Linked DNA regions of Homo sapiens: region 1 is reported to be linked to region 2. The links are microRNA targets in miRTarBase. Many come from high-throughput screens and were not tested one by one. Region 2 holds a microRNA gene; the other region holds the end of a gene's coding sequence.

Region 1 (5,063 bases), not on the chromosome of region 2:
GATGGTGAGAAATAGCTATCCAGGCTCATGGTCACAGGAAGTCTGGTCCTTCTTCCGGGGTTTGGGCAGCTCCAGGTGACTGGACAGCCCTCACGGCTCTCCTGGGGTGCGGCCCCATCTCGCCACCGCTCCTGACTGTTTCCTCCTTTCCAGGATGTGGAGGTCAGCCCCAAGGTGGAATCCGTGTTGTCCCTCTTGAATGCCCCAGGGCCAAACCTGAAGCTGGTGCGGCCCAAAGCCCTGCTGGACAACTGCTTCCGGGTCATGGAGCTGCTGTACTGCTCCTGCTGTAAGGAGCTCTCAGGGGATGGCGCCTGGGGGTGGGAGGCCAGGCATCTGGGCCCACCCAGGCCAGCTGGCAGAGCTGGCGTCCTCCCGGGCATATCCTCTGCTCCCCGGGGCTACAAGCCATTTCTGGAAGCCAGGATGGGCCCTGGGTAGAGTGGGGGACAAGCACATGCGGCTTGGCTTAGTGGGGAGGGTGGTCTTGAACACTGCTGCAGTCTTTTTTTTTTTCCCCTATCTCTTGCAGGTAAACAAAGCTCCGTCCTAAACTGGCAGGACTGTGAGGTGCCAAGTCCTCAGTCTTGCAGCCCAGAGCCCTCATTGCAGTATGCGGCCACCCAGCTGTACCCTCCGCCCCCGTGGTCCCCCAGCTCCCCGCCTCACTCCACGGGCTCGGTGAGGCCGGTCAGGGCACAGGGCGAGGGCCTCTTGCCCTGAGCACCCTGGATGGTGACTGCGGATAGGGGCAGCCAGACCAGCTCCCACAGGAGTTCAACTGGGTCTGAGACTTCAAGGGGTGGTGGTGGGAGCCCCCCTTGGGAGAGGACCCCTGGGAAGGGTGTTTTTCCTTTGAGGGGGATTCTGTGCCACAGCAGGGCTCAGCTTCCTGCCTTCCATAGCTGTCATGGCCTCACCTGGAGCGGAGGGGACCTGGGGACCTGAAGGTGGATGGGGACACAGCTCCTGGCTTCTCCTGGTGCTGCCCTCACTGTCCCCCCGCCTAAAGGGGGTACTGAGCCTCCTGTGGCCCGCAGCAGTGAGGGCACAGCTGTGGGTTGCAGGGGAGACAGCCAGCACGGCGTGGCCATTCTATGACCCCCCAGCCTGGCAGACTGGGGAGCTGGGGGCAGAGGGCGGTGCCAAGTGCCACATCTTGCCATAGTGGATGCTCTTCCAGTTTCTTTTTTCTATTAAACACCCCACTTCCTTTGGTTTGCTTTGCTTTGCATCTTCAGGGGTGAACCTGGCGGGGATGGGAGGTGGCCAAGTGCAGGAAGTGGAGGGGGGCAGGGCTGAGGATGCGGATTTGGAGTGGATGGAGCCTGCCCAAGGGATGTGGAATGAGAGGGATGCCAGGGATGGAGTTCCGGCCCAGCCCAGCCCAGCCCAGCCCAGCCCAGCCCAGCCCAGCCCAGCCCAGGGGCCTCTGCAAGCCTGGGTTGGGGGAGGCGGTGTTGGGCTGATACCTTGGCTTTGACCCTTGCCATCCTCCCTCCCTCCCTCCCTCTCTCCCTCCCTCCCTCTCTCCCTCCCTCCCTCCATCTGGCTGCCCCCAGGCAGCCCCTAGCAGGGACACATATGGGACATTTCAGAGACCCAGGTCTGGCCCTGGCACCTACATTGAGATCTGAGATCCTCTGGGAACCCCCAGCCTGTCCCCCTGCAGCTGGGATCTGGGGTGGGAAAGGTGAGGTGTGGGGATGGGGTAGGAAGCAGCCAGGCAGAGGCAGGGGTGTTAATTACAGTACACCTTTATTAATACTGGAATCTTCACAGTGCATCTGTTACTTGTAGCAGTGACTATATTTAAATCGGGGAGGATGGTGTGGAGGGGGCGGGGAGGAGAGGAGAATTTTTCCAAAATCTGACGGAAAGAAAAGAAACAAATGGTTCAGATGGGACGGAGGGTGGGGGAGGGGGGGAGGGTGAGTAGGAACCAGGAGGGCTGCCTGGGGTGGGGGAATAAATTAAAAAAAGGAACGAGTTAACAACAGCACCAGGAAAGTTACTTCAGTCAAAAGACGCTTTTGAAAAGAATATTTCTCCGTACAAAATGAGAAATTAAACGAACGTAAAGTCCCCCAAACCAAAGTTTGTGATGTGGGATGGTTGGCTCGGATCCCGAGGTGGGTGGGCCTATGAGGTGGTTGCTAAGTCGACGCAAGGGCGGCGGGGGTGGTCTCAGGGATGGACAAGGGGATGGAGTAGAGTATGTACAGCCCCCGGGGCTCACAGGGGAGGGGGACGGCGGAGTCGGTGGGGGCTGTGCCACACGAGCCCCCCTCTCTGGGTAGCCCCTGCCTCCTTTCCCATCAGGACCTCTGACGCCCAGGTCTGCCCACCCACTGCCCCTCACTCTATTCCCACCACATCCTGAATCCTGCTCCACCGCCCTGCCTCGGAAGACCCCTGCAGCCCTGGGGAGAATGTGTGGCGGAAATTCTACCCAAGACTCCCCAAATAATTGGTCACCTGCTCTCCTGGCCCCTAAAACCGGGGCTCTGGTGTTGGCCTGAGCTCCACGGGCTGAGTGCTCGGCCAGGCAGTTGTTGAACCTAGTGACTTACTTACAGGGACCATTCTTCATCAGCTCCCTCTGATGGGACTCTGTCCACATCAGGGCCTGCTTGGTGCCCGGACCTACCCAGGAGCTGCCCAGCTCACCGCACAAGAACTCCCAGGAGCTCAAGCCTGGGAGGCTCAGACCCAGCTCCATTCTATCAATCAATCAATCAATCATCAAGACCAAGGTGCTCCTGACCCCCAGGTAGGACCCTGCCCTGGGGCCACGATGCCCTCTGAGCCCTGCTTTCCCTCCTGACCTGCGGGGCCACCAGGACTCCCTCCGCTCGCCCTAGGCTCACGTGCTTTTACCTGCTGAGACTTGGCGTGACTTGGTGCGTGGGGTGGGGGCAGCCTTGCCCCTCCCCTTGCCCCCGCTGCCACCACGAGCCTGGACTACAGTGGGGGCCGTGCTGGGATGGCATCTCCTCCGGCAACAGAGAGTCAAAGCCAATCTTCCCAGACTCGCTCCCCCACCTGGGCTTGCAGCCAGCTCAGACCACAGCAGACAGGCCGGGAGCCTCCCAACCTTATTTTGGCTACGCTCGAGACACTGGAGAGAACAGTAGCTTCCACCGGGCTCTGGGGGAGCCAAGTCCCTCCCTTCTCATCCTGCCATAGGACCACCGGGGGGTCCCTGTCCCCCAGGCACTCCCAGACACACACCCTGTATCGTCCCCTCTCCCCCACACTTAGTCCTCGTCCACAGTCAGCTCCATTTTATTATATTCATAAAATGACCCCACACCTCCTACTGCTCCAGTCACCCCCCGAAAGGTGGCTAAAACTGTGACCCCCAAAGTTAAAAGATTGATGTACCCAATGAGAAGTGGACATCTGAAAACGGTGCCTGTGTGGCTGGCCGGTGACCCCAGGGCCTCCGGCCTCCTAACCCTGCTGCCCTAGTTTCCAAAGAGCTGCTCTGGCCCCCTCCAGCCAGCCTCACGGGGTGGGGGAGGCGAGGGGTGGGAGCCACCACAGGGCCCCCAAGACCCCCCCCCCCAAGCAGCCCCTGGTTTCCTCCCTGAGACTTGGCGTGGGCCCTGGAACTCCCTTCCCACACGGGGGGCCTGGCCGCCCAACTCCAACCTGCCGCCCTGGCCCCCAGCCCCCAGCAGACATCCAGCCCAGCGTGCACCTGGCCCCTCCACAGCCGCCCCGCCTCCTGGAGGGAGAGGGGCCTGGGAGAGGCAGAGAGAAGGCAAGAGGGGAGGAGGGGGCTCAGGCAGGGGAGAGGGGGGCCAGCATTCCAGGAGGAGCTGAGGCAGGACCAGCCCTGGGAGAGGCCGGGATGGTGAAAGGGAGGCCAGCCTGGCCCCTCTGTCATGGGCAGCGGCCCTGGCTCTGGTGCTTATGGGTAGGGAAGAGGCAGGGCCCCAGAGGAGGAAGAGGAGGGACCGAAGAGCATAAAACAGACCCCGAACCAGGCCCAGGCCTGCAGGCTCCGTCCTGGCCAGGCTTGCTAAGAAGTCACTTCCTGTTTAAATGCTGGAATCCAAGTGAGGTGTCTTTCCATAAAGTGGCATGGCCTCTGCCCTGGCTCTGTCCTCTCTCCTGGCTGGGCCTTTGCTCTGAGTGCCTGCGGCTCACAGACCAGGCCACCTGCTCGCACTGGGGCCTGAGAGGATGGGGAGGGTGGCGCCATCATAAGATGCGGGGCGCCGACCTGTCGTTGGTGACGGTCCTGCGGAGCCGGACCCCACGCCGGATGGCCACCAGCATGTCTTCGGCCGGGGGGTCGCTGGTGGCGGCTGGGGGTGGGGTGGGCGTCTCCTCCGTGGGGGTGGCCGACAGAGCAGTGGGGAAGGGGAACTGGCCCTCACCCAGTGCGTGGGCACCCGCCACCAGCTCCCCCAGCTTCTCCACCAGGCTGTGCCGGTTGGCCGCCAGCTGCTGCTGCTCGTCCTCGGCCCCTGCCCCGGGGTACCCGGCTGCCTCTGGGGATGGGCTGCCCCAGGCTGTGTTGGGCAGGCTGAGCCTCTTTGGGGAGGCCTTGGCGAGGTCCGGTGCCAGGGGTGAGGCGGTCTCGTCGGTATAGAAGACGCACTCCTCACTGCCCGCCCGTGTGGGCCCCATGTAGCCGGGGGAGTCAGGCACCGTGGGCGTCTTCACAGGGACGATGGGCGGCCGGATGGGGATGGGGCCAGCGCTGGACAGGGCGCGGCGCACGGTGGGCTTGGTGGAGGGTGTGCGGCGGATGGTGGCCACGCCGGGGGGTGCGCCCGAGGGCAGGCCAGTGGCCGTGGGCAGCCCCGCGGTGGGCAGCCCAGCAGTGGAGGCTGGGCGCTTGGTCTGGATCAGGCGGCGGTAGTTCTGGGCGATGTTGCTGTTGCGCGGGATGGTGGATGACTTGTCAAACTCGGGCGGGCCCTCGCTGTCCGCATCCCCATTCACGGAGTAGCAGTCGTAGTCGGAGCCTGGGGGCACGGGACACAGTGAGGCCCAGGGCCCAGGTGGCCCCTTGCCCCCAGCCCACCAGGGTGAGCACAGAGGGG
Region 2 (5,073 bases):
AGGACTTGGCTCCCCCACTCCTTCGACGCCCCCACCCCCGCCCCCCGTGCAGAGAGCCGGCTCCTGGGCCTGCTGGGGCCTCTGCTCCAGGGCCTCAGGGCCCGGCCTGGCAGCCGGGGAGGGCCGGAGGCCCAAGGAGGGCGCGCCTTGGCCCCACACCAACCCCCAGGGCCTCCCCGCAGTCCCTGCCTAGCCCCTCTGCCCCAGCAAATGCCCAGCCCAGGCAAATTGTATTTAAAGAATCCTGGGGGTCATTATGGCATTTTACAAACTGTGACCGTTTCTGTGTGAAGATTTTTAGCTGTATTTGTGGTCTCTGTATTTATATTTATGTTTAGCACCGTCAGTGTTCCTATCCAATTTCAAAAAAGGAAAAAAAAGAGGGAAAATTACAAAAAGAGAGAAAAAAAGTGAATGACGTTTGTTTAGCCAGTAGGAGAAAATAAATAAATAAATAAATCCCTTCGTGTTACCCTCCTGTATAAATCCAACCTCTGGGTCCGTTCTCGAATATTTAATAAAACTGATATTATTTTTAAAACTTTATACCGGGAATTCTGTTAATTCGCTCGCCCGCCGGCCTCAGGGTGAGAGCTGGAGCAGGCTCCAAGCGCTCCCGCGCCTGCCGGCCCCCTGCAAGCCCCCAGCCCTCTGCACTCGCCTTCCCCGGAGCCCAGGCGCCCGGCCCCGGCCTTCTGTTCGTTCTCGCGATCGCACTGAGGGGCTGGGAGGCCTCTCTGGGCTCCCTGCGCGGAGCAACACACACACCCTGCGGGAAAAAGCCGCGTAGGATTTTGTTGCGGGGGGAGCTGGGATCAGTCGGTTTGGGCACCAACCCCACGCAGGCCTTTCTTCCTGCCTGTGGCAGCCGGTGTCCTCGGCGTCCGAACCCTGAGGCGCCCCGAAAGACCAGTAAAGAAGCACTATCCAGGCACCAGGGTCTCCTCCACCCACTCCCGGGAGTTGGAGGCGGGGGGCGCCGTGAGAGCAAGCCCCAGGCCCGCGCCAAGCTGGCTGTTGCGAAACGTAGCGGAGGCGGAGAGCGGAGGGAAAGAGAAGACCGCGGGACTGGAGCCCTGTCGGCAGGGATTGAGCGATTCAAGGACATCTCGAGAGAGAAAGCCTGGAAACTGAGCTCTCGCCTGCTCTGGTACTCCTGACGTGGCCGGGACAAAATTCCTTCTTCATTACAGCTCCAGCCGGGCTGGTTCCTTACTTTTCTCTCCTCAAACGGGTGAAGAGGCGGGTGAGGAGCGCAGCCGGACCCTAACCATTTATCAACCCTGGCCTTCTCTCTCCAAGCCTGGCCAGAGAAACCTGAGTGGGCCTACAGGGAGAGGTGTTGAGGAGGGTCTCCGGAGGGAAAAAATCCGCCAGAGTTTTCCGGGCCCTTCAGATTCCCTCCAGCGCCCCCACCCTCGCCTCCAGTGCCTCCACCAGTGAGGAGGGGGCCTTCTCCTGGCGGGGCGGAGATTTCCTGGGAAGAAGCAGGCAGGGAAGTATGAGACTTGGGGCTACGGGGGAAGAGGATGGGGCCGAATGGCTGCAGATACCCTGCGAAGGCTACCCAGGCGCCTGCCCTGCCCACCCCCCAGGTCCGCCCCATTCCTCTTGGTAGCTCAGAAATTGCTCTCTTGTGAACCTTATGGATTCAGGTCCCTGGAAAGCCTAGCCCAGAGACCTTTTCCCCAAAGGGCACATAACGGGCCTTTTCCTCTGCCATGCTCACGTAATATTTGTGGAGGCTTCAATCTTGCTTCTCCATGTCCTCAATTAACATCTATTTTCTGTCTAAAACCTCTGGCATAGGTACCACATAAGGATCGCACACAGGGAAACAGAGCAGTCCTCTAGACCATTGTCTGGCTCTGTCCGTGTCCACACACACACTTGAAAATTGCCTTGTTGCCACTCTGGGGACCCTAGCATGGTGAGGTCTAGCCAACTCCACCTGGCTCCTCACCTCCAGATCCATCCCAAACAGCCTGCAACACCCTCAGCTTCATGACCCCCCTATCTTGTTCTGACCACTCAGGATCCCTCCTCCTGGGCGTCCTGTCTACCTCTTCAGAAGCTAATTCTACTTTCTCTTGCTGATAGGCACCTCTTCAGCAGTAGTGGAGCCTTAGGGCCTGAGAGGCAAGGGACTTCTACCTTTGGTTTAGGGAACCTAAGTTAAACCCCATTGGTTCTCCAGCCTGGGCATAGGCCACCTTACCTAACTTAATCCCCTTTCCTCAGCCATTTTTGAAGATTGGAAGACCCTGGAGGTTGGGAGAACGGGACTTTCATTACAAAAAGCACTCTGTGCGTTATAAGTGGGGCCTCGTCTTTTCCCAATTTTAAATAGAATTTAAAAGGCTAGCTCAGGGGTTGCCCCAACAACCAGCTTCTCCTTCACAGTGTAGGAAATCCAGCCACCGGAAAGCAAGCTGGCGCTCCAGGATGCAATTCCCCCACATAGGCACCAGGTGTCGCTGTGGGCTTGTTGTCCCGGCTACCCCCAATTCCAAGAACCTTTTTTTTTTTTTCCCTCCCCCTTCCCTCTTTCTCTCTCTCACTCCCTCTCCCCCTTGGTTGGGCTTTGCCAACATATCGAGATGCTTTTCGCCGGCTTCCATCACTAACCTCCCGGAGGTCATCAAGCCAAATTTATGAGTGGCCGCTCGAGTCACGTGACTCTATTTAAGGCTCCCTTATTTGGGAAGAGCGCATAGGATAAAGAAAGAGATATCTCCACCTATAAATTGTCCACTTTGGAGAACAAAAAACCCCTCAACTTCAAAGAGTCACAAATCACCCTTAATCAAAAAGGGTGCAGAAATTTTTTTGGGCCCTCCCCGCCATGAGCTCCTACGTAGCCAATTCATTCTATAAGCAGAGCCCCAATATCCCTGCCTATAACATGCAAACTTGTGGGAACTATGGATCGGCCTCAGAGGTGCAGGCATCCAGGTACTGCTACGGCGGATTGGACTTAAGCATCACTTTCCCACCGCCTGCGCCTTCCAACTCTCTCCACGGGGTAGACATGGCTGCCAACCCCCGGGCTCACCCCGACCGCCCCGCCTGCAGCGCCGCGGCCGCTCCGGGACACGCTCCGGGCAGAGACGAAGCGGCTCCTCTGAACCCCGGGATGTACAGTCAGAAGGCGGCTCGCCCGGCGCTGGAGGAGCGAGCTAAGAGCAGTGGGGAGATCAAAGAGGAGCAGGCGCAGACAGGGCAGCCCGCCGGACTGAGCCAGCCACCGGCCCCGCCACAGATTTACCCGTGGATGACCAAACTGCACATGAGCCACGGTAAACTTTAGGACTTCATTTTGCGCTCTCGGGTCCGCCTGGGTTTTATAGGCCATGCGGGGCAAATAAAGAAAAAAAACCTGCGGCCATAAATTTTACGATCCAGGCATCAATGGCTCGTAAAACTGTCCACTAAAAGGCTTAGAGGCTGTGTGCGCCCAAATTTACGACGACATAATTGGATCATAGGAACAAAACGTGTATAAAAGGCAATATTCAATTTTTGGGGGAGAGGGAGGGAGTTAAAAAAATAGAGGGATCTGAAGGGTGAGGAGCGCGGGGCTCCAGAGCGGGGATCCCCCCGCGGCTCCCTCCCTCCCTCCCCTGCGGAGCCGGCTCCGCCGGCGCTTGCGGCTCCGGAGGATTCCAGCGACTCGGGAGGGGCGGGAGGGGGGTCCCCGGTGCTCGGATCTCGAGGGTGCTTATTGTTCGGTCCGAGCCTGGGTCTCCCTCTTCCCCCCAACCCCCCCTCAGCCCCTCCGGCTGCAGAGTGAAGGCTGCGGTGGAAAGTTTCCTGCCTGGGCGGAGGCGCCTCTCCCGGGGCTGGGCTGGGCTGGCCCGCCTGCGGCCCGCGTGGCCTGTCTTGCGGCTCTCGCCTCCTCTCCCTCCGGCCGCGGGTGGGGGCCTGGGCTGGGGTGGGGACGGGGGAACGCTGCAAGCTATTCACCCCTTCCTGGCTTGGGGTGGGGTTTATGTTCCAGAGACGGACGGCAAGCGGTCCCGAACCAGTTACACGCGCTACCAGACTCTGGAACTCGAGAAAGAATTCCACTTTAACCGCTACCTCACTCGCCGCAGGCGCATAGAGATCGCCAACAACTTGTGTCTCAATGAGAGACAGATCAAGATCTGGTTCCAGAACCGCAGGATGAAGTGGAAGAAAGATTCCAAAATGAAAAGCAAAGAGGCTCTTTAGAGGCAGCGGGGGAGGCCCGCAGAGCGCGCCCCTAGCCGGTTCCTGTCCCTGCGCCTTTCCTTTTCGCCTTTCCTCTCTATATTTCGGGTCGGGGGCAGGTGCTGGAGCACTGGGCTCCCGGGCCCCACAGACAAAAGCGCTTTTCCTTGGCATTCCGCATCCCTACCGACCCAGGGTTCCCGCGGGGCTGTCGGCGCTGCCCCATCTCCCCTCAGCTCGGCTCAGCTCGGTACCCGGGGCCCAGGGCAAGCTCCGCAGGACTTCCCCGGAGGGCTGCGGCGTACAGGCTGGCGCAGAACGAACCTTGGCCTGGGCCGTATCTCCGGCTCCCAGCCTCAGCGCGGCCCTCCCGAGTTAAGGTGGGCCCGGCCCGCGCCACAGGACCCTCGCCGGACCCTCTAACCTCGCCCTCTCCTTTGTTCCCGGCTGGACGGGTTAGACAGCCAAAGGCTGGCGAGAGTCTGGCCCTAGACTCGGGGTGCTTCCTTGTAGCGACTAAACTAGATTTTCACTTATGAATGATTTGCATATGAAAGGAGAGCATCGGCCTAGGGCCCCCACAGTTGCTCTATGCTTTCCAAACCTTATCTCCACAACCTCTTCCCCCCAAAACCCGGGAACCTCCCCAGCCTGCGCCTGCTGCATGCCCTCTCAGGCCGGCAGCCCCAGCCTGCTAGCTAGCTCAACTAGTGGGGTTTCCTGGCACTGGACCCCAGCAAGTGGTCCTAGAGGCCCTTTGCTGTCCCATAGTCCCTGCCACGAATTTCTGTGCCCTCCTGACCCATTGCTGTTGTCCAACTATTTATTGACTCTGGGTCCTTCCTGAAACTATATTTTGTCATATCAAATAAAGAGAGA

Evidence for each region. The annotated mature microRNA hsa-miR-615-3p reads UCCGAGCCUGGGUCUCCCUCUU and lies in region 2 at 3,733-3,754, shown strand. An mRNA with a match to its seed (bases 2 to 7 or 8) in the 3' UTR can be bound and repressed. Matches are read on the target gene's strand: a 7mer-m8 pairs with bases 2 to 8, a 7mer-A1 pairs with bases 2 to 7 and ends in A, and an 8mer does both.
Region 1: miRTarBase lists MTSS2 as a target of hsa-miR-615-3p. The part of its 3' UTR that is shown has no 7-base or 8-base seed match.

The regions. Positions count from the first base shown.
Region 1 is chr16:70,659,465-70,664,527 of GRCh38, forward strand. It overlaps MTSS2 (MTSS I-BAR domain containing 2), which reads right to left. Exons shown (of 15, transcript NM_138383.3): 15 at 1,740-4,985. The coding sequence ends at 4,213. IL34 (interleukin 34) reads left to right here. Exons shown (of 6, transcript NM_001393494.1): 5 at 154-289; 6 at 533-1,218. The coding sequence ends at 723. Among named protein-coding and RNA genes, the nearest start is that of IL34, 15 kb to the left of the region's middle.
Region 2 is chr12:54,030,278-54,035,350 of GRCh38, forward strand. MIR615 (microRNA 615) reads left to right here and starts at 3,673; the gene lies at 3,673-3,768. HOXC6 (homeobox C6) reads left to right here. Exons shown (of 2, transcript NM_004503.4): 2 at 1-546. It overlaps HOXC5 (homeobox C5), which reads left to right and starts at 2,773. Exons shown (of 2, transcript NM_018953.4): 1 at 2,773-3,299; 2 at 4,001-5,073. The coding sequence starts at 2,846. The coding sequence ends at 4,215. It also overlaps a transcript of HOXC4 not described here. RefSeq lists enhancers at 2,288-2,582, 2,577-3,728 and a silencer at 3,812-3,871.